Homo sapiens: one gene and its partners. The protein of the gene in region 1 interacts with the protein of each later gene in a pairwise test. Each region holds a gene or a part of one and is shown in the gene's direction. Other genes may lie near its edges.

Evidence for each region.
Region 2: the proteins of VSTM1 (region 1) and SLC60A2 interact in binary tests that used the Homo sapiens proteins (3 or more experiments, as listed by UniProt).
Region 3: the proteins of VSTM1 (region 1) and STMN4 interact in binary tests that used the Homo sapiens proteins (3 or more experiments, as listed by UniProt).

What each region holds. Positions count from the first base shown.
Region 1 is NC_000019.10:54,046,871-54,053,905, reverse strand, and holds part of VSTM1 (V-set and transmembrane domain-containing protein 1 isoform 1 precursor), read left to right. Parts: intron 1-931; coding exon of another isoform or gene 932-1,007; intron 1,008-2,457; coding exon 2,458-2,496; intron 2,497-5,502; exon of another isoform or gene 5,503-5,591; intron 5,592-7,035.
Region 2 is NC_000006.12:111,276,324-111,280,525, forward strand, and holds the end of SLC60A2 (sodium-dependent glucose transporter 1), read left to right. Parts: 3' UTR 1-3,682; downstream 3,683-4,202. UniProt on the Homo sapiens protein: May function as a sodium-dependent glucose transporter. Potential channels for urea in the inner medulla of kidney.
Region 3 is NC_000008.11:27,241,385-27,248,419, reverse strand, and holds part of STMN4 (stathmin-4), read left to right. Parts: intron 1-3,694; exon of another isoform or gene 3,695-3,830; intron 3,831-4,618; 5' UTR 4,619-4,696; coding exon 4,697-4,709; intron 4,710-5,927; coding exon 5,928-6,023; intron 6,024-6,662; coding exon 6,663-6,743; intron 6,744-7,035. UniProt on the Homo sapiens protein: Exhibits microtubule-destabilizing activity.

The sequences.
Region 1 (7,035 bases):
CAGGAGCTCACATTCTTCTTTGGAAGAAAGAAAGAAATAAGAGCAAGCTATCAGAGTAATTAAAAAACACATTATAGATGGAGAATAACTGTGAGAGGCATTGTATTAGTGATCTACAGCTGCATAACAAATTACCACTAATTTAGCAGCCTGAAACACCTATTTATTATCTCACAGTTGATGTGGGTCAGGAGTCCAGGCACAGCTTAGCTGAGTCCTCTGCTTTGGGTCTCATAAGGATGCAATCAAGGTGTCAACAAGGGCTGTGTTCTCATCTGGCTCATCTGGAGGCTTGACTGGGGAAGGGTCCATTTCTCCACTCCTGTGGTTGATAGCAATATCTGGTTCTTTATAGCTGTAGGATTCATGCTAGAATGATTCTGCAGCACTTGCAAGAAGAGAGATTGAGAGAGAGAGAAGAAAGAGAGAGCAAATGCCCTAGCAAACAGAGTTTTATGTAATGTAACATAATCAAGAGCATAACATCCCATCACCTTTGCCATAGCTATTGGTGAGAAGAAAGTCACAGATCTCCACACTCAAGGTGAGGGGATTAGACAAAGGCATGAACACCAGGAAGCAGGGCTCCTGAGTCTCCTGAGTGCCCCCTTAGGGTCTATCTGCCACAAGCATGAAGGATGAGAATGACCCAACCACACCGATATCTGGAGAACAGCCCTCCAGGGAGAGAGAGCAGCAAAAGCAAAGTCTCAGAAGTGTGAGTGTTCCTGGAATGATTGAGACACAGAAAGGAGGACATAAGGCAGGGCCTAGAGCATCTAGGATCTTGTGGGTGTTTGAACTGGTCCTAGAGTCTGCTTTGAAAGAACAGGAACCCACTGATGAAGTTGAGCTGGAGGATGGCATGATTTTATTTATATGCTGGAAGGGTCACTGGCTGCTTTTTTTTTTTTTTTTTTTTTTGAGACAGGGTCCCACTCGGTTGCCCAGGCTGGAGTGCAGTGGTGCAATCACAGCTCACTGCAGCCTTGACCTCCCAGGCCCAGGTAATCCTCCCACCTCAGCCTCCCAAGCATCTGAGATTACAGGCACAGGCCATCATGCCCGGCCTCTGGCTGCTTTTGGAAAATAAGGGACTAGATGTAGTAAGAGTTGGTGCGTTTCAGGCAATACGACTTTTTAAATTTAAAAATATCAAATTGACAAATGAAGATTGTATATATTCAAGGTATACAATCTGATGATTTGATCCACCTGTACATTGTGTAATGATTATCACAGTCAAATTAATTAGCACATCCATTGCCACCATGCTGAGCACCTGAACTTCTTCATCTTAGAACTGGAAACTTATACCCTTTCATCAACATCTCCGCATATATCATGCTAAACAAAATAAGCCAGACTCAGAAAGACAAATTCTGCAGGATCTCACTCATATGTGTAGTCTAAAAAAGCCAAACTCACAGAAGCAACTGGTGGTTGCCAGGGACTGGTGAGTAGGTGATATTTCATTTCATTTTTATTTTTATTTTTATTTTTTTTTTGAGACGGAGTCTGGCTCTGTCCCTCAGGCTGGAGTGCAGTGGCGCGATCTCGGCTCACTGCAAGCTCCGCCTCCCGGGTTCACGCCATTCTCCTGCCTCAGCCTCCCGAGTAGCTGGGACTACAGGGGCCCGCCACCACGCTCGGCTAACTTTTTGTATTTTTAGTAGAGACGGGGTTTCACCATGTTAGCCAGGATGGTCTCGATCTCCTGACCTTGTGATCTGCCCGCCTCGGCCTCCCAAAGTGCTGGGATTACAGGCGTGAGCCACTGCGCCCGGCCAAGTAGGTGATATTTTAACTTAGACTAAATGGTGCCACTGTGGAGATAGAAATATAGGCCAGGTGCAGTGGCTCATGCCTGGAATCCCAGTATTCTGAGTGGCCAAGGCAGGTTGATCACTTGAGGCCAGGAGTTTGAGACCAGCCTGGCCAACATGGTGAAACCCTGTCTCTACTAAAAATACAAAAATTAGCAGGGTGTGGTGGCGGGCGCCTGTAGTCCCAGCTACTTGGAAGGCTGAGGCAGGAGAATCTCTTGAACCCGGGAGGCGGAGGTTGCAGTGAGCTGAGATCATGCCACTGCACTCCAGCTTGGGTAACAGTGCAAGACTCAAAAAAAATAAAAGAAAGAAAGAATTTGGGTGAATGGTGTTCTTTGTCAAGATAGAGAAGACTGGCAAGGAATCAAACTGGAGGGGGCGTTAGCAGGGTCATTCATAAATATTTTTGTTATTAAAAATACTATCAAACTCCAGGACTATTAAGAAGAGTAATCTGAGGCTCTGTCCATGCTCTGAGGACCCAGGGAGCATCTAGGGAATGGAGAAGCCATTCTCTTTTCTGCTTCCCAAAGAAGAACAGGATGTCTATAAGTAGGACGTGAGGACTCCTGTCCCCAAGGTTCCTGTATGATTAGTGTAATTCCTTTTCTTCCCTCCTATTTTCTAGATAAACACGATGAACTTGAAGCTCCCTCAATGAAAACAGGTAAGATAATTAGAAAGGAGATGTTTTTCCCAATGAGATCTGCTTCATGATCACCTTTGCTTAAAGTGCACAAGGAGAACTTTATTTATTTGTTTGTTTGTTTGTTTGTTTGTTTTTTGAGATAGAGTCTCGCTTTGTCACCAAGGCTGGAGTACAGTGGCGCAATCTCAGCTCACTGCAACCTTCGCCTCCCGGATTCAAGCAATTTTCCTGCCTCAGCCTCCCGAATAGCTGGGACTACAGGCACGCACCACCACACCCAGCTAATTTTTGTATTTTTAGTAGAGACGGGGTTTCACCATGTTGGCCAGGCTGGTCTCGAACTCCTGACCTTGTGATCTGCCCGCCTCAGCCTCCCAAAGTGCTGGGATTACAGGCGTGAGCCACCGCACACGGCCTATTTATTTTTTTGAGAAAGAGTCTTGTTCTGTCCCCCAGGGTGGCGTGAAGTGGCACAATCTCAGCTCACTGCAACCTCCACTTCCTGGGTTCTGGGTTCAAGCAATTCTCCTGCCTCGGCCTCCCGAATAGCTGGGATTACAGGCACCCACCACCATATCCAGCTCAGTTTTGTTTTTTGTTTTTTGTTTTTAGTAGAGATGGGGTTTCACCATGTTGGCCAGGCTGGTATCAAACTCCTGACCTCAAGCAATTCCCCCGCCTCGGCCTCTCAAAGTGTTGGGATTACAGGCATGAGCCACCGCACCCGGCCTAGAAGAACTTTAAAGCCCATTTTCTCAATGTTATTGGGGAAACTGCTGTGTTTTGGGGGGTGGAGGATGAGGGGAGATAACCTCTAAAGTGCTTCCGGGTTCTGAAGAAGCTGGTGTGTAAAACAGCACAGAGTGCGTTGTTTGCCATATGACATGATGAAAAACTAGGGTGGGATTTGGGGAATAATGGGGGTGAATTTTTCAGTGACCCATTTGGGGAGTAGGACCAGGACCTACGCAGAGTAGGTACTTCAGGAATATATATAATCAAGAGTTTGTTATAACTCTAAAATTCTCAAAAATAGGTGAATATTGAATTTTTTTTCTAATGTTGCTTATTCATTAACAATTGACTAAGATTCTGTCCTCAGAGTTTCTCATAAAAATTAGAGCTTTTGGGCCAGGCGAGGTGGCTCACATCTGTAATCCCAGCACTTTGGGAGGCCGAGGTGGGCGGATCACCTGAGGTCAGGAGTTCGAAACCAGCCTGGGCAACATGGTGAAACCCTGTCTCTACTAAAAATACAAAAATTTGCTGGGCATTGTGGTGGGCGCCTGTATTCCCAGCTACTCAAGTGACTGAGGCAGGAGAATTGCTTGAACCTGGGAGGCAGAGGTTGCAGTGAGCCGAGATTACACCACTGCCCTCCAGCCTGGGCAACAGAGTGAGACTCTGTCTCCAAAAAAAAAAAAAAAAAAAAAAAATTAAAAAGTTAGAGCTTTTGGCAGCATTCGGCTGAAACAGGAACTCATCCAGACTTTAAGGGCCAAATGCAGAATATAAATTGGCATCTAGATGCTTAATCATCCTTCCTTTCAGCAAGTCATAATCTTCCTGCAACCTACTCCAAAGAGCCAAAGTTGCTGAAGGTTGTTGCTAGCAGTCTGTGCTGGTATAATCGGTTTTCAAAAAGGTATCCTCCAAAGTGTTCTTGCAAGATAACTATTTGAAACGTTTTTATTCCATGATAGTAGGCTTGGGAAATGTCTGCTACCCTAGCACTACGAACACAATTCACGTCAGGAACGTTTTCTGAGAAAGATATGAAATCTAATGGGAGAGAGGAACACAGAAGTATCAGAAACGAGGTGGGAGATCTAGTGAGGTGTGAGGGGGAGGAGGAAGAGAAGCTTTTCTATTTTGAGCTCTTGTATCATTTATTTTCTTTCTTTTTTTATTGATATATAATTCACAGTCCAAAAATTCACCCTTGTAAAGTGTCCAATTCACTGGCATTTTGTATCTTCATGAGGTAGTATAACCATCACCACTACATAATTCCAGAACATTCTCATCACCCTAAAAGAAAATCTTGTACCCATTAAGCAGTCACTCCTCATTTCCCACTTTCCCACCAGGCCCTTCCAACCATTCATATGCTTCTCTGTGTCTATGATTTTGTCTATTCTGGACATTTTGTGTAAGTGGATTCATACACTATGTGATCCTTTGTGACTAGCTCCTTTCTCTTTAGCATAATGTTTTCAAAGTTTGTCTGTACTGTAGCATGCATCAATGTTTCATTTCTTGTCATGGTGAAAAGCATCGTATTGTATGGATAGACCACATTTTGCTTATCCATTCTTTTTTTTGTTTTTGTTTTTGTTTTTTTGAGACGGAGTCTTGCTCTGTCGCCCAGGCTGGAGTGCAGTGGCACAATCTCAGCTCACTGCAACCTCCGCCTCCCAGGTTTAAGTGATTCTTTTGCCTTAACCTCCTGAGTAGCTGGACCTACAGGCGCCCGTCACCATGCCTAGCTAATTTGTGTATTTTTAGTAGAGAGGGGGTTTCACCATGTTGGCTAGGCTGGTCTCGAACTCCTGACCTCAGGTGATCCACACGCCTCAGCTTCCCAAAGTGCTGGGATTACAGACTTGAGCTACTGTGCCTGGCCCCGTTCTTCTTTTGATGGACATTTGTGTTGTCTGCACCTCTTGGCTAAAGCGAGTAATGGTGCTGGAACACTGTGGTAGGAGTATCTGTTTGTCTCCGCGCTGTAAATTATCTTGAGTATGTACCTAGAAGTGGATTTGCTAGGACATATGGTGACTATTATGTTCAACTTTTTGAGGAACTGCCAAATCATTTTCCATTGTGGCTGTATCATGTTATATTCCTTCCAGTAATATATGTGGGTTCCAATATCTCCACATCCTTGTCAACACTTACTTTTCTTTTTTTAAATTATAGCCATCCCAGTGGGTATTATATAATTTCTTAAAATGTACTTTTTGAGTTCAAATTTGTATCATCACAATTCTAAACAGAATAAAATATCTTTGCCGGGCGCAGTGGCTCACGTCTGTAATACCAGGACTTTGGGAAGATGAGGCAGGAGGATCACTTGAGCCCAGGGGTTCAAGACCAGCCTGGACAACTTGGTAAGATCCCATCTCTACAAAAAATACAAAAATTAGCCAGGCGTGGTGGTGTGCACCTGTAGTCCCAGCTACTTGGGAGGCTCAGGCAGAAAGATCGTTTGCGCCCAGGAGGTTGAGGCTTCAGTGAACTGTGATTGCGCCACAGCACTCCAGCCTGGGTGACAGAGCGAGACCCTGTTTCAGTAAATAAATAAAATAAAAGTAAAATATCTGTAAGCACAGGTATGATGTCCCCAGCCTGTATTTATATGCCTAAAACACACTAGAAAACGACTCTATGTTCAATCGCAATGTAGAGAATGAAGATGAATTTTATCACACAAGACTTGACTTTCTTTCTGGTGCCTGTGCCTCCATTTATGCCCCGTGTCAGGCTGTATCTTGTTGCTCACGCTGACTTTAGTAGCGTAGCAAGTTATGATTTATTCTGGCAATTTGCAAATACTGATGCAACATTTGGCCAGGATCTGTGGACATCTCAGGGTGAACCCAGTTCAGCTGATTATGGGGTCATATGAAGATGAGAATTTTGCAATAATGTACTTCTCATTTCTAGTGAATTGCTGTGTGAAAGATACCGTAGGCTGGAAAAGGGGAGAACAGAAAGGACAAGGCAAGGCTGCTGTTTCTCTGCTTCCATCTGGGGAAACTGAGAGTCCAGGAGCAGCTGTTCCTGCCCTGTTTTCATAAGTCCTTGGAGATGCACTGATAGAATTGTTGCTTATGGCCAGGCATGGTGGCTTATGTAATCCCAGCACTTTGGGAGGCCAAAGTGGGCAGAACACTTGAGCTCTGGAGTTTGAGACCAGCCTAACCAACATGGTGAAACCTCATCTCTACTAGAAATATAAAAAATTAGCGGGGTGAGGTGGCGGGTGCTTGTAATCCCAGCTCCTTGGGAGGCTGAGGCAGGAGAATTGCTTGAACCCCAGAGGGGGAGGTTCCAAAGCCGAGATTGTACCACTGCACTCCAGCCTGGGAGACAGAGTGAGACTGTCTCAAAAAAAAAAAAATTGTTGCTTTTGAGGGGTTCTCTGATTCAGCTCCACCAGAAGCAGGCTCTTAGACAGCATTAGTGTGAAAGTGACGTTTTATTTTATTTATTATTTATTTAGTTTTGAGACAGAGTTTCGCTCTTGTTGCCCAGGCTGGAGTGCAATGGCGTGATCTTGGCTCACTGCAACCTCCGCCTACCAGGTTCAAGAGATTCTCCTGCCTCAGCCTCCCAAATAGCTGGGATTACAGGCATGCACCACCACACCCAGCTAATATTCTATTTTTAGTAGAGACGGGGTTTCTCCATGTTGGTCAGGCTGGTCTCGAACTCCTGACCTCAGGTGCTCTGCCTGCCTCGACCTCCCAAAGTGCTGGGATTACAGGTGTGAGCCACCACGCCTGGCTTGAAAATTACATTTTAGGGAGTGGGGAAGAAGGGCTGGGAGGA
Region 2 (4,202 bases), on another chromosome or scaffold:
TTTAATATTTTGTTGTGTTTGTGTTTTTTGTCTTAGATTTTTTTCTTAATCAAGTTTTTCCAGAAGAGAGTAGCTTTAGGAAGAGAATAAACACATACTTTTAAGGTATTATCTCAGACTTTAGGCGCATTATGATCATATCAGTAGCACCCATGTACTGAATAAGTGAACTCAAAGAAAAGTTATGTTGGGCAACTACCTCAAAGTTTTGTTATCTCTGCTTGCAATTTTTGTTCAGTCATTGCACAAGTGCTTGAGGGCTTACTGCATGTGAGGCTCTGTAGACTAAGTATTAATGAACTTTCTTTTTTGTCCTTGCAGTAGCAGGTACAGCTTTGATCTCAGTTTTCTGCCAAATGAATGGTTCTGTGTTTTGTGCTCATTCGTTTACAGAGATCCCTCTGAACCACCTTGGAACCAGAAGGTGTGTGGTCTGAGAACGATAAATGGGCTGCTCTCTGCCTCTCTCACAGCAGTTCTGCCCCTCCTTGGGACCACTCGTTTTCTGCATTCCTGGCCCATCTTCTATATATCTCTGGTCCAGATTCCAGAGGAAACCTGTTTGACTTGAATAGATGCCATTGCCCTTATTGGGCCTTGCCTCAGGAGTTCCTCTGTGTATCTCTGGTCCAGATTCCGGAGGAAACCTGTTTGACTTGAGTAGATGCCATTGCCCTTATTGGGCCTTGCCTCAGGAGTTGCTGGTTAGCCTATGAAGGGGTTCCCTTTGGGTTGATGACATTGCTCCCATCCAGAAAGTGGCTACTTCTACCCTCCTACTCCCACCACTCTGCATGCAGGAGCTGTTATCATCAAAAGGGAATGTCCACTGTCTGCTCTGTACCAGAGAAGTGCTAGGCTTCATAAATATTGGTAATCGATACCTGAATGGGATGAAAATTGGCAGGTCCTGGGATGGATGGCCTGGTTCATCTGCATCAGAACTGGAAAAACAAAATCACACCAAATTGCAGACTTTTTTGGAAGAGCGTGTTAGACAAGGTTTGTGGATTGTTTGATTTTTACCAAGAAAGAAAGCTTTCTCCTAAGAGGGTAAGATTTCTACTTGAGTGAGCTCTAAGAGGAGTCCCAGTTTGCAAGAGATATTATTACAGTTCTCATCTGTGCGGACCAGAAAGTTTTCCAAATTCATGCATTTCAGTTATCTAACAGATATTTACTGAGCATTTACCATGTTCAGTAACCAGGGCCCTGGGAATATAATAGGAGAAGGCAGATGAGATCCTTGCCTTCACCAAGCTTATGTTTTTCTATTTTAAGTAAAATTTGCCATGACAAAATTTCTATCAGCGGAAGAGCCAGTAACTCTTATTGTAATAGGTTTTACCCAGTTTTAGAAAAGGAAAGTAGCTAAACTCTTGGTTCCTTGGTGTGTGTTTTTGTTTGTTCATTTCTAGTACTTGTCTATGTCTTTGGGGTAATTTTTGATTTAGAATTTTGTAGAAATTACTCGGCACAGTGTAGTTGAGGTGAATATAGGCAAGAAGGCTTAGGAAGCCTACAACAAAGGAATCTGACACCAACTTTTGAGATTTATTCAGTCCAGCCAAGAGAATATATTTATGGTCAAACTAGATCTTGGATTACAGCTCCAAAGACCCTTGGGCTGACAGAGCAGGTTCTCATTTCTCAGCTCTTTCCCTTATCACTTGCAGTGAACTCTGCCCCCAGGAGCAGAGTATCCAGTTCTGTGTCCAAGCACTCTATGAATCTTTACCCTTGTTGAAGAAATACTCAGAGACAGAAGCATTTAGAAAAGGAAAAGTTTACCTGCAAAGAGAGCAAGAGAATGACTGGCTTGCCTAATAAAAAACGTAAGTATTTGAAGGAAAAAATTAAAAACTGCCAAGGTTTCTGAGTTTGCATTAGACTGTTCACGGTGAAAAACAGTAACTGCCTCATGTAATTATTGTATTCATAAAGGTTATGGCAAATCTTCAGATGTAGTACAGGAAAAACCAAGGATAAAATTTCTTAGGGAGTCCAGGTTTATGGGAAACATTCAAGGTTTTATTGTTTTTTAGATCATCAACAGTTAGATGACCCTATCATTTTTGTTTTGTCTCAGGGTGCAACGTCTTTCTTTTCTGATGGTGATTGATATAGTTTGGCTGTGTCCCCACCCAAATCTCATCTTGAATTCCCATGTGTTGTTGGAGGGACCTGGTGGGAGGTAACTAAATCATGGGGGCAAGTCTTTCCCGTGCTGTTCTTGTGATAGTGAGGAAGTCTCACGAGATCTTTTGGTTATTATAAGAGGGAGTTTTCCTGCACAAGCCCTCATTTTGCCTGCTGCCATCTATATAAGATGTGATTTGCTGCTCCTTGCCTTCCGCCATGATTGTGAAGCCTCCCCAGCCATGTGGAACTGTAAGTCCAATAAACCTCTTTTGTAAATTACCTAATCTCAGGTCTGTCTTTATCAACAGCATGAAAACAGACTAATAGAATGATATAGGAAGTTCTTAGTCTTACTGAAGCAAGGGAAAGTGACATTTTGCTTCTACACCCTCCAGAATTCATAAGCTCCAGAAGGAAAGAGGACCCAAGGGAAAAACGTGATTGCAAAATGTGTTCTTGTCCTCTGCCCAAGTGATTAACCTTTGCTCCAGTGGTTTTCAAACCTGGCTGCTGTTAGAATCACCTGGCAGTGTTTAAAAATGACTGATGCCCAGCATTTTAACTTAAATACCAATTTGGTCTGGAGTGGAGCCTGAGTATGGATATTTAAAAAAGTAACTCCTCCTCCCCAATCCCCCGTAATTGTAATGTGCAGCCAAGATTGAGAACCACTGCTTTGATCAGTGCACAAAACTGGATCCTCTACTAATGACCGTGGTTTTTTCTTAGGCTTACTTACAGATTGATTAAGTTATGCCACTTTTGTAGATCCTTGAAATTCTGTGCACTTTCTTTCTTTCTTTTTTTTTTTTTTGAGACAGAGTCTCGCTCTATTGCCCAGGCTGGAGTGCAGTGGCGCTATCTCAGCTCACTGCAAACTTCACCTCCCGGGTTCACGCCATTCTCCTGAGTAGCTGGGACTACAGGCGCCCACCACTGTGCCCAGCTAATTTTTTGTATTTCTAGTAGAGACGGGGTTTCACCACGTTAGCCAGGATGGTCTTGATCTCTTGACCTCGTGATCCGCCCACCTCGGCCTCCCAAAGTGCTGAGATTACAGGCATGAGCCACCGCGCCTAGCCTGTGCACTTTCTTAAAGGAAAACTGGAGAGGAAGAGATCTCATGTTTTCTATTCACTCCACTGCTGCTTGGTCCAGTGCAGGAAATATTGCTGTTATTTGAAGTCCTTCCTAAAACAAAAGCTCAGATCTTTTGGAGGTTGCCCTTCTAGGCAGGTTTTCACCAGTCAATTTTGATTTGGGGGGCTTAACAGAGTAGGAATGATCTTGCAGGTTTATTACATCTGAATTTAAGACTACTCACCTAGGCTGGGCGTGGTGGCTCACACCTGTAATCTCAGTGCTTTGGGAGGCCAAGGCGGGAGGATACCTTGAGCCGAGGAGTTCAACACTGCAGTGAGCCATGATCACACCACTGCATGAGTGAGACTCCATCTCAAACAAAAAAAATAGACTACTCACTGTTTACATAGCTTTGTACCATATAAAAACTTGTTTGAATAAAATATTGATAACAATAGTGATGTTGGTTTAAGATTCATGTTTCAGTTGTTTCACTGATTTTTGAATTGATACATAATAGCTATGCATAATTATGGGTTCCCTGTGATAATTCGATACATGCATACAGTGTGTAATGAGCAAATCAGGGTAGTTGGGATATCCATCACCTCAAATGTTTATCATTTCTTTGTGTTGGGAACATTTCACATCTTCTCCTGTAGCTATTTTGAAATATACAATAAACTAGTGTTAACTGTAGTCACTCTACTGTGCTATCAAACACTAGAACTTATTCCTTCTGTCTAACTGTATTTTTGTATTTGCTAACCAACCTGCTGCCCTCTGCTCTGTCCCCTACCCTTCCCAGCCTCTGGTAATTATTATTCTACTCACTACCTCCATGAGATTAATTTTTTAGCTCCCACATCTAAGTGAGAACATGGAATATTTGTCTTTCTGTTAAGTGAAATAACTCCCTTAACATAGTGTCCTTCAGTTTCATCCGTGTTGCTGCAGATGATAGGATTTCATTTTAT
Region 3 (7,035 bases), on another chromosome or scaffold:
TCCTGAGTAAACCCAGTCCACATCCCTGGCACACAGTCAGGTTCACAGTCATTGCAAGGTGATAGGCACTGCAGAACCTCAATTGCATAGTAACCTCATCACAGTCTGGGATGAGGCCACACTCGAATCTTTGCCATCTGAAGATCTAGCAGAGGGCTTGGCACAGAATTATATACTAAATAAATAAATAAATAAATAAATAGAGTCCTCTCTCTACCTGCTCCACTGGATCAATCCCTGCCAGCACAGGGGCTCAGCTGCCCAGGGAGGCCTTGGCTCTTGACCAACCAGTTTGTGTCCATCAGAAGTGCTTGACAGTGACCACCAGGCAGGAGCTGGAGGGCCTGCCATCCTGAGCTCTAGCTCTGGTTCTGGATATTGGCTGAATGACTGCCACATTGACCTTCTGTCTGGGGCTCCTTTGATCTTTGTTGCTGCTGGATGCAATGAATTTCCTGGTCTTCCTTAGGGGCAATAGAAGGGCTAGGATTGGCTCTCACCTAACAGAAAACACATAAGGAACCTCTGAGGGATGGGGATGGAGGTTTGCTTCTGCACTGGGTTTTGCCTTCCATTGCTCTGCTGGCTGACGTCTTGGATAGAATCTCCCATTGAGGATTTGCACTCCTTGCCTCATGCTTCCTATGGCCTCTATTGTCTCTTCATCTTCATCATGCCACCTGAATCCCTGGCACTCTGTGTGCTCTGACCTTGGGCATAACACCTTTACTGTCCTTCTTTGACAGTTCCAGGAGAGGTTTGGTGGCCCTCGCTCCCTTGCAGGCTGTATATTGCTGTGGCATGATAACATGACCATGGCCATTTAACAAACCCCACAAGACAACCTAGCATCACACAACCAGGCCAGGTGCTGGGGAGGGACATGTGACTGGCCCCACTGGGCGCAGATGCCACAGGTTATTAGGGATAAAGTTGGGTTTCCTGCCATGGCTGGCGCCACCCAGTGGCAAAGACTCCTTTCATCTCTGTGCCCTCTGCTTCCCACCTTTTTATCTTCTGTGTCCTTTCTCAGAATGTCCCCTGGGCATATCTTTTGGGTCTTGAGTGCAAAAGAAATGATGTGACTGTTGGCATGAGGATTTATAAGGGCCCTATGGACCCACAGGCACAAGTAAATAGATCATCTTTTTTTTTTTTTTTTTTTGAGACAAAGTCTCACTCTCTCACCCAGGCTGGAGTTCAGTGGCGCGATCTCGGCTCACTGCAACCTTCGCCTGCCAGGCTCAAGTGATTCTCCTACCTCAGCTTCCCTAGTAGCTGAGATTACAGGCATGCGCCACCATGCCGGGCTAATTTTTGTATTTTTAGTAGAGATGGGGTTTCACCATGTTGGCCAGGCTGGTCTCAAACTCCTGACCTCAAAGTGATCTGCCCACCTCAGCCTCCCAAAGTGCTGGGATTACAGCATGAGGCACCACGCCTGGCCACATAGATCATTTTGAGGAATAAATCAGCCCATGTATGAATGCTGGTACCTGAGGTGAAAAAAACCATGGGTTTGAGCCCTGGCTTTGTCACTTCCTGAGGACATTAGTTTCCCCGGGGCTACTGCATCACTTTACCACTAACCGGGAGGCTGGAAGTTCAAAGCTGAGATGTCAGTGGACTGAACTCTGCTGAAGACTCCAGGGGAGGATCTGTCCTTGTCTCTTGCAGGTTCTGGCGGCCCCAAAGGTTCCTTGGCTTGTGGCTGCCTTACTCCCATCTCTGCCTCCGTCTGCACATGGCCTTTTCTCTCAGTCTCTCTTATAAGGACACTTGCCATTGGGTTTAAGGCTTTCTCAGGCAAGCAGGAATGTCTCTTCTTGAGATCCTTCATTAAGCCCTTCTTTCCAAATAAGCTCATATTCACAGGTTGTAGGAGTTAGGATGAGCATGTATGCATGTAGGGGACATTATTTAACCTACTGTACTGAATGGCCTTGAAAAGGCACTTAGCTTCCCTGAGCCTCGATTTCATTCTCTATAAAATGGGGATAGTAATTCCTGCCTTACGAGGCTATTACGAAAATTAAAGTGAGTTTGTCACATAGCAGCTGCTCAGTAAGCACACATTTTTAACACTGAGAGGTCTCCATTGCAAATCCCTTGATCATGACCATGCATACCTCTGCCCACCTCTACAACATCTCGTTTCTTGCCCTGGTTTTCCTTTTCTGGCTTTCTGACCTTCTCTGTGTTCCTAAAACTCCTAGCCCATTTCCTTCCATGTAGAAAGCACTTACCACATATTTTAAAGTTAACTCATATCCCCAGGCCAGGCTGGCTTTCTGTGAGTCCTCAGGACCATAGAGAAAGCATTAGTGAGTATCTAGTTCTTCCACTGGTTACAATGGAAGAGCTTACAAGTCGAGAGACCTGGAGACTAGACCCAGCTCTGCACCCTTAGAGCTGTGTGACCTTAAGCAAGCGTCTGAACTTCTCCAAACCCCAGGTTCTTCATCTGAAAGCAAAGCTGATGATGCCTGTCTTGTCAGCCTAAGCCAGCTTCATGCAAAGTTAGACTAGGATAATGTGGTGGGTGTCGAGTGCCCCCTGAGCACAGGGTCCTATCATCATTTCTAGCTCGGGCTGGAGGCACATTCCATAACTCCAACTGCCTGCTCCTACTCCATCTGCCTTCTTTCTCAGGCATCCCTCTCTGCCTCCCCTCCACCTATTCAGGCTTCCACTTCTGATCCTTTCCCCAGGTAGAAGTCCAAGGCCACTGCCACTCTGGCAAGGGCTTACTAACTCTGCCAGTGACTTGTCAGTCAGCCTGGCCATGAGCAGAGACTGCGGGATGGGGTGTCATGACCAGGGAAGTCGCATGCAGGCACCAGGCCTGCCTCTCTGTTCAGGGACTCACTGGTGCCGTCAGGACCAGCTTAGTTCTGCAGAGAGAAGACCCATTGTGCTGCAATGACAGGGGCCTCTGGCTCCAAAGCACAACAACAAGAACAAGGAGAACAAAGCAGTTTAAGTCCAGCTGGACCTCGGTTCAAATGGGCACTCTAACTTGCTAGCTGCATTGCCCTGAGCAGGCACATAAACCCTCTGAGCCTCAGTTTCCCCATCCGCACATGGCAACAACAGTCCTTACTTGTGGGTCCAGAGGTAATGGCTCTGAAGCAGGCATGTGGCACCTGATAGCTGTCCTGATGCAAAAGACAGGGCAAAGAGACTAACATTTATTCAGTGCTTCCTGTCTGCTGGATGCTATGCATGGGTTTTTCTCATTTAATTTGTACAGCTCTGTGCAGGATTAAGATGGAGAAAGAGACTAGCGAGAGCTGGTAAGAGAGGTGATACTTGTATTTGACCCCACACTGGTCTAGCCCTAAAGCCAGAGCTGAGTTCACTGCCCCATTACCTCCTCCTGCCAGTCTCCAGCCAGCACAGAAAGGCAAGGGGTTTGAAGTGGGTCTCAGAGTCTCTTTGGCTGGCAAGGATGTAGGCAGTGAGCCTGCTGGCTCTCGCCACCCTCCCCTGGCACAGTGACCACAGAGGGTGACCGAGGATCAAATGGTCCTGAGGATGGCCACTCACTGCTGGCTGCTCCTCACTCTCTTTGTAGTAGCCTTCATGGGCTCCCATCACCTCCACCCCTCTGATCCTCCCAGATCTGCTCCTTCCCTGACTCTCCTGTTTTGTCTCCTGCCCCGCCCCCTCCTCTTTCCACTTTCTGATCTAGCGTCAACTAGCTTGACCTGATCCCACGGACACTGAGTGGCGTTCTCACCCCGACCCTTGGCCGTGATGTTCCCTTGCACAATGCCCTCCTGCCAGCTCCTGTCTGATTCTAACTCATCCTTCAAGGCACTGCTCAGGTGCTACCGACACCAGGGACACCTCCCAGGCTCCCTGGCAAATGCTGGGGGTGTGGAGCCCTATTTCTGTGTCCCACAGCAATTCCTCATGCTGATTTCTGGTGGTGTGGAGCCCTATCTCTGTGTCCCACAGCAATTCCTCACGCTGATTTCTGGTGGTGTGCTGGCTGGCCCTGTGATGACGACATGATTCCTTAATGTTTTTCTTTCCTGTGTCCCGGATTGTCTTAAATAGGGTCAAACACAGCTTAGGTCAGTCGTCTTGGGAAAGGGAAGGTGAGAGGCATCTGAAGAGGCCTGTTAACATCCTATGTCCAATTCCCTCTCTTCCCATATCAGAATTGGCCCAAAGACTTCTGGGGCATGTGCGGGGAGAAGTCCAGGACACACAGTTATTTTATGAATGCCTCCCAGCTGATTCTGCAGGAGGATTTGCTTCTCACCCTAACCCTTGAATTGGGCCAGGTTCTTGAGCTATGGAGGGAGACAGATGAGCACCCCTTGATCCATACGTTTTTGGGAAACCCACGCTTGCATGTGCTAGGGGGCTTGAGACTGGAAAGCCAATTATGAAGTATCATTAGTTCATGGAATCTGAGCTTGTTTAGCATCATTGTGGGAGGGAGGTCGGGGTAGGGGACCCCCAGGGAGAGTTGGTGGGGAGAGGGCCTGGAGGAAGAGCAAATGAGGTACCCCTGAGATTCCCTCCCCAGTGTATAAAGACCTTTCTTATGAGAATAACCTGTCTAATCCATCGATGGTAAAATCCTGTCCTCCCCTTTTCTCAGGTTGGTGACAGCGTCCCAAGCTGGTGACAGACCCACTCTGTAACTTTCAGCTAGATTCAGCCACCAGATCCCAGAAACATGACCCTTGCTGGTAGGTACAAAAACCATGTGTTAAGGGGCGTAGGCTATTCCCCCTGCCCTCACCCAACATGGACTCACAGAAGCAGGGAAGAACACAGCTGGCAGGAAGCACACGGGGTGTGTGGGGGGGTGCAGGTAGTGATGGGAGGCTTGGGGGCATGCAGGCAGTGGCGGGAGGCACACCACTGCCTGTCACCACAGGCGACAAGTTGAACAAGTGGTGGGGGGTGTGTCACAGCTGAGATTTTCTTCCTTTTGCTCATCTGTATATGTGTGTTTTTTTTTAAGTTTTTATGATGCCTATATATTATTTTTGCAGTTACACGTATTTTCAAATCTGTAAAAGGAAGCCAGGTATAGTGGCATATGCCTATAGTCCCCAGTATCAGGAGTCTGAGGCACAAGGATCGCTTGAGCCCAGGAGTTTGAGTCCAGCCTGGGCAACATATTGAGACCCTCATCTCAACAAAAAATTGTACAAGCAAATGAGGATGGGGGCAACACCTGCGCTGTGCTAGGGGTCAGCTAAGGGCTGCAACCTGAGCAGCCAGACACACGGGCCCCAAGGCGGTGAGGAGAGGGACTTTCAGGAGCCAGGACAGCTCTGGCCCCTGACATCCCAAACACAGATAGACTAGAGGGTGGCGGGGATATGCTCCAGCTTTTGGGGACACCAGCGACCCCCAGGCTCTGTGCACTGTGTTGGAAAGGTCAGAGAAGGCTTATAGCCTGACCTTGTGAGGGGCAGACCAGAGGGATGGTGGTGAGGACGGTCCCCTCCTATCCAGCTCCTTAACCCTGCAGGCCAGCGCTGCCAGGTATTTGGAGTAGAATGGAGTGTGGGTCTCCTGTGTCCTGGAGAAAAAGAATCGGAATGTCCTGGGGCAGATGTTGGGGGATGGAGAGCTGAGGCACTGGTGCTTGGGACCTTTCCATGAGGGCATTTTGCTTTCTGGTCTGGAAGGGGAGGAGACATACTGTGGAGAAGGATCTGATGCTCTGGAAGGCTTAGGTTTCCACAGGAGACAGGAGTGGGTTCGAATCCCACACAGGGATCCTGAACAGCACGGCTCAGGGCGAAAGGCCTGGATCCCCAGGCTTGGCGTGTGCCTGCGTGGTTTGAGTGCCTTTATGGAACCCTGGGCTGCTCAGAGCCCCAGACCCGTGAGGACGCTGACTTCTGAGGCTAGGAGAGGCGCCATCCTCACCTGACTGGGTGTTTCCGCAGCCTACAAAGAGAAGATGAAGGAGCTCCCGCTGGTGTCCTTGTTCTGCTCCTGCTTCCTGGCCGATCCCCTGAATAAGTCGTCCTACAAATATGAAGGTCAGTGAAGGCTCAGCCAGGAAAGTGAGGGGCGGGGGGGCCCTGTGTCCTGTCCTCATAGGTCCTGCACCCCGACCCCAGTCCCGTGAATCTCTCCTCCCGAGACAGTTTCCTTCCCAGTGCCGATGAAATCACAGCGGGTGAGCCCGAGGGTCTGAGCTGCAGTGGTCCAGCCTGGGCACTAGGGGGAGGCCATGAAGGTCTGCATCAGGCGCCCCCCAGAGTGCACTCGATCTTGTCACCTCTGTGCATGCATCCAGCAAATCGAGACTGGGGGGTATGCAAAGGTGAGCCAGACAGATATTCTACCTGTGGGGAACATCTAGACCAGAAGAGAAGATGAGACGATGTGAGTCAGTTTCCAGGTCAACAGGTCTCCTCTGGGAAGGGTAGAGAATGCTCTGGGAGAGTCCAGAGGTGGGAAGAGGAGGTTCTGTGGCAGCCATGCTGTGTGGGGCCTGTAGCCGGGACAGCCCCAAGACACCAGCAGGGAGCACTGGGTGGCCACGTCCTCACCAGGGGTGCTCGGGGACCAGGTCACCTCCTAATGTCCTGGTTAGAAGCAGAGATGGGTTTGGTTTGGTCTGGCACCAAGGAACAGGCATGCTCGGATGACCTGAGGTTGTTTTTTCTGTCTAGGCTGGTGTGGGAGACAGTGTAGGAGGAAGGATGAAAGCCAGCGGAAAGACAGTGCTGACTGGAGAGAAAGAAGAGCTCAGGGTAGGAGGGAGGCAGCGGAGGGATTCCGCAGGCCGAGCGTCAGATGGGCTGTGGCCGGGGGTGGGCGGGGGCTGAAACGCACCCCTGCCTGTCACCACGGACGACAAATTGAGCAGCTCAGCAGTCAGAGGAGGCTGGTGGGGGAAGCAAAGGCAAAAGCAGCCAGTGTCGTAGGAAATCACATTGCCTGGGGCCCCCTATTCTTGCAGGCTGAAGCCTCACTGTTGCTACAAACTCCTTCAGCCCCGTCAGAGGCCATTGCCCTTAGGTACTAGGGTGTAGGACTAAGCCA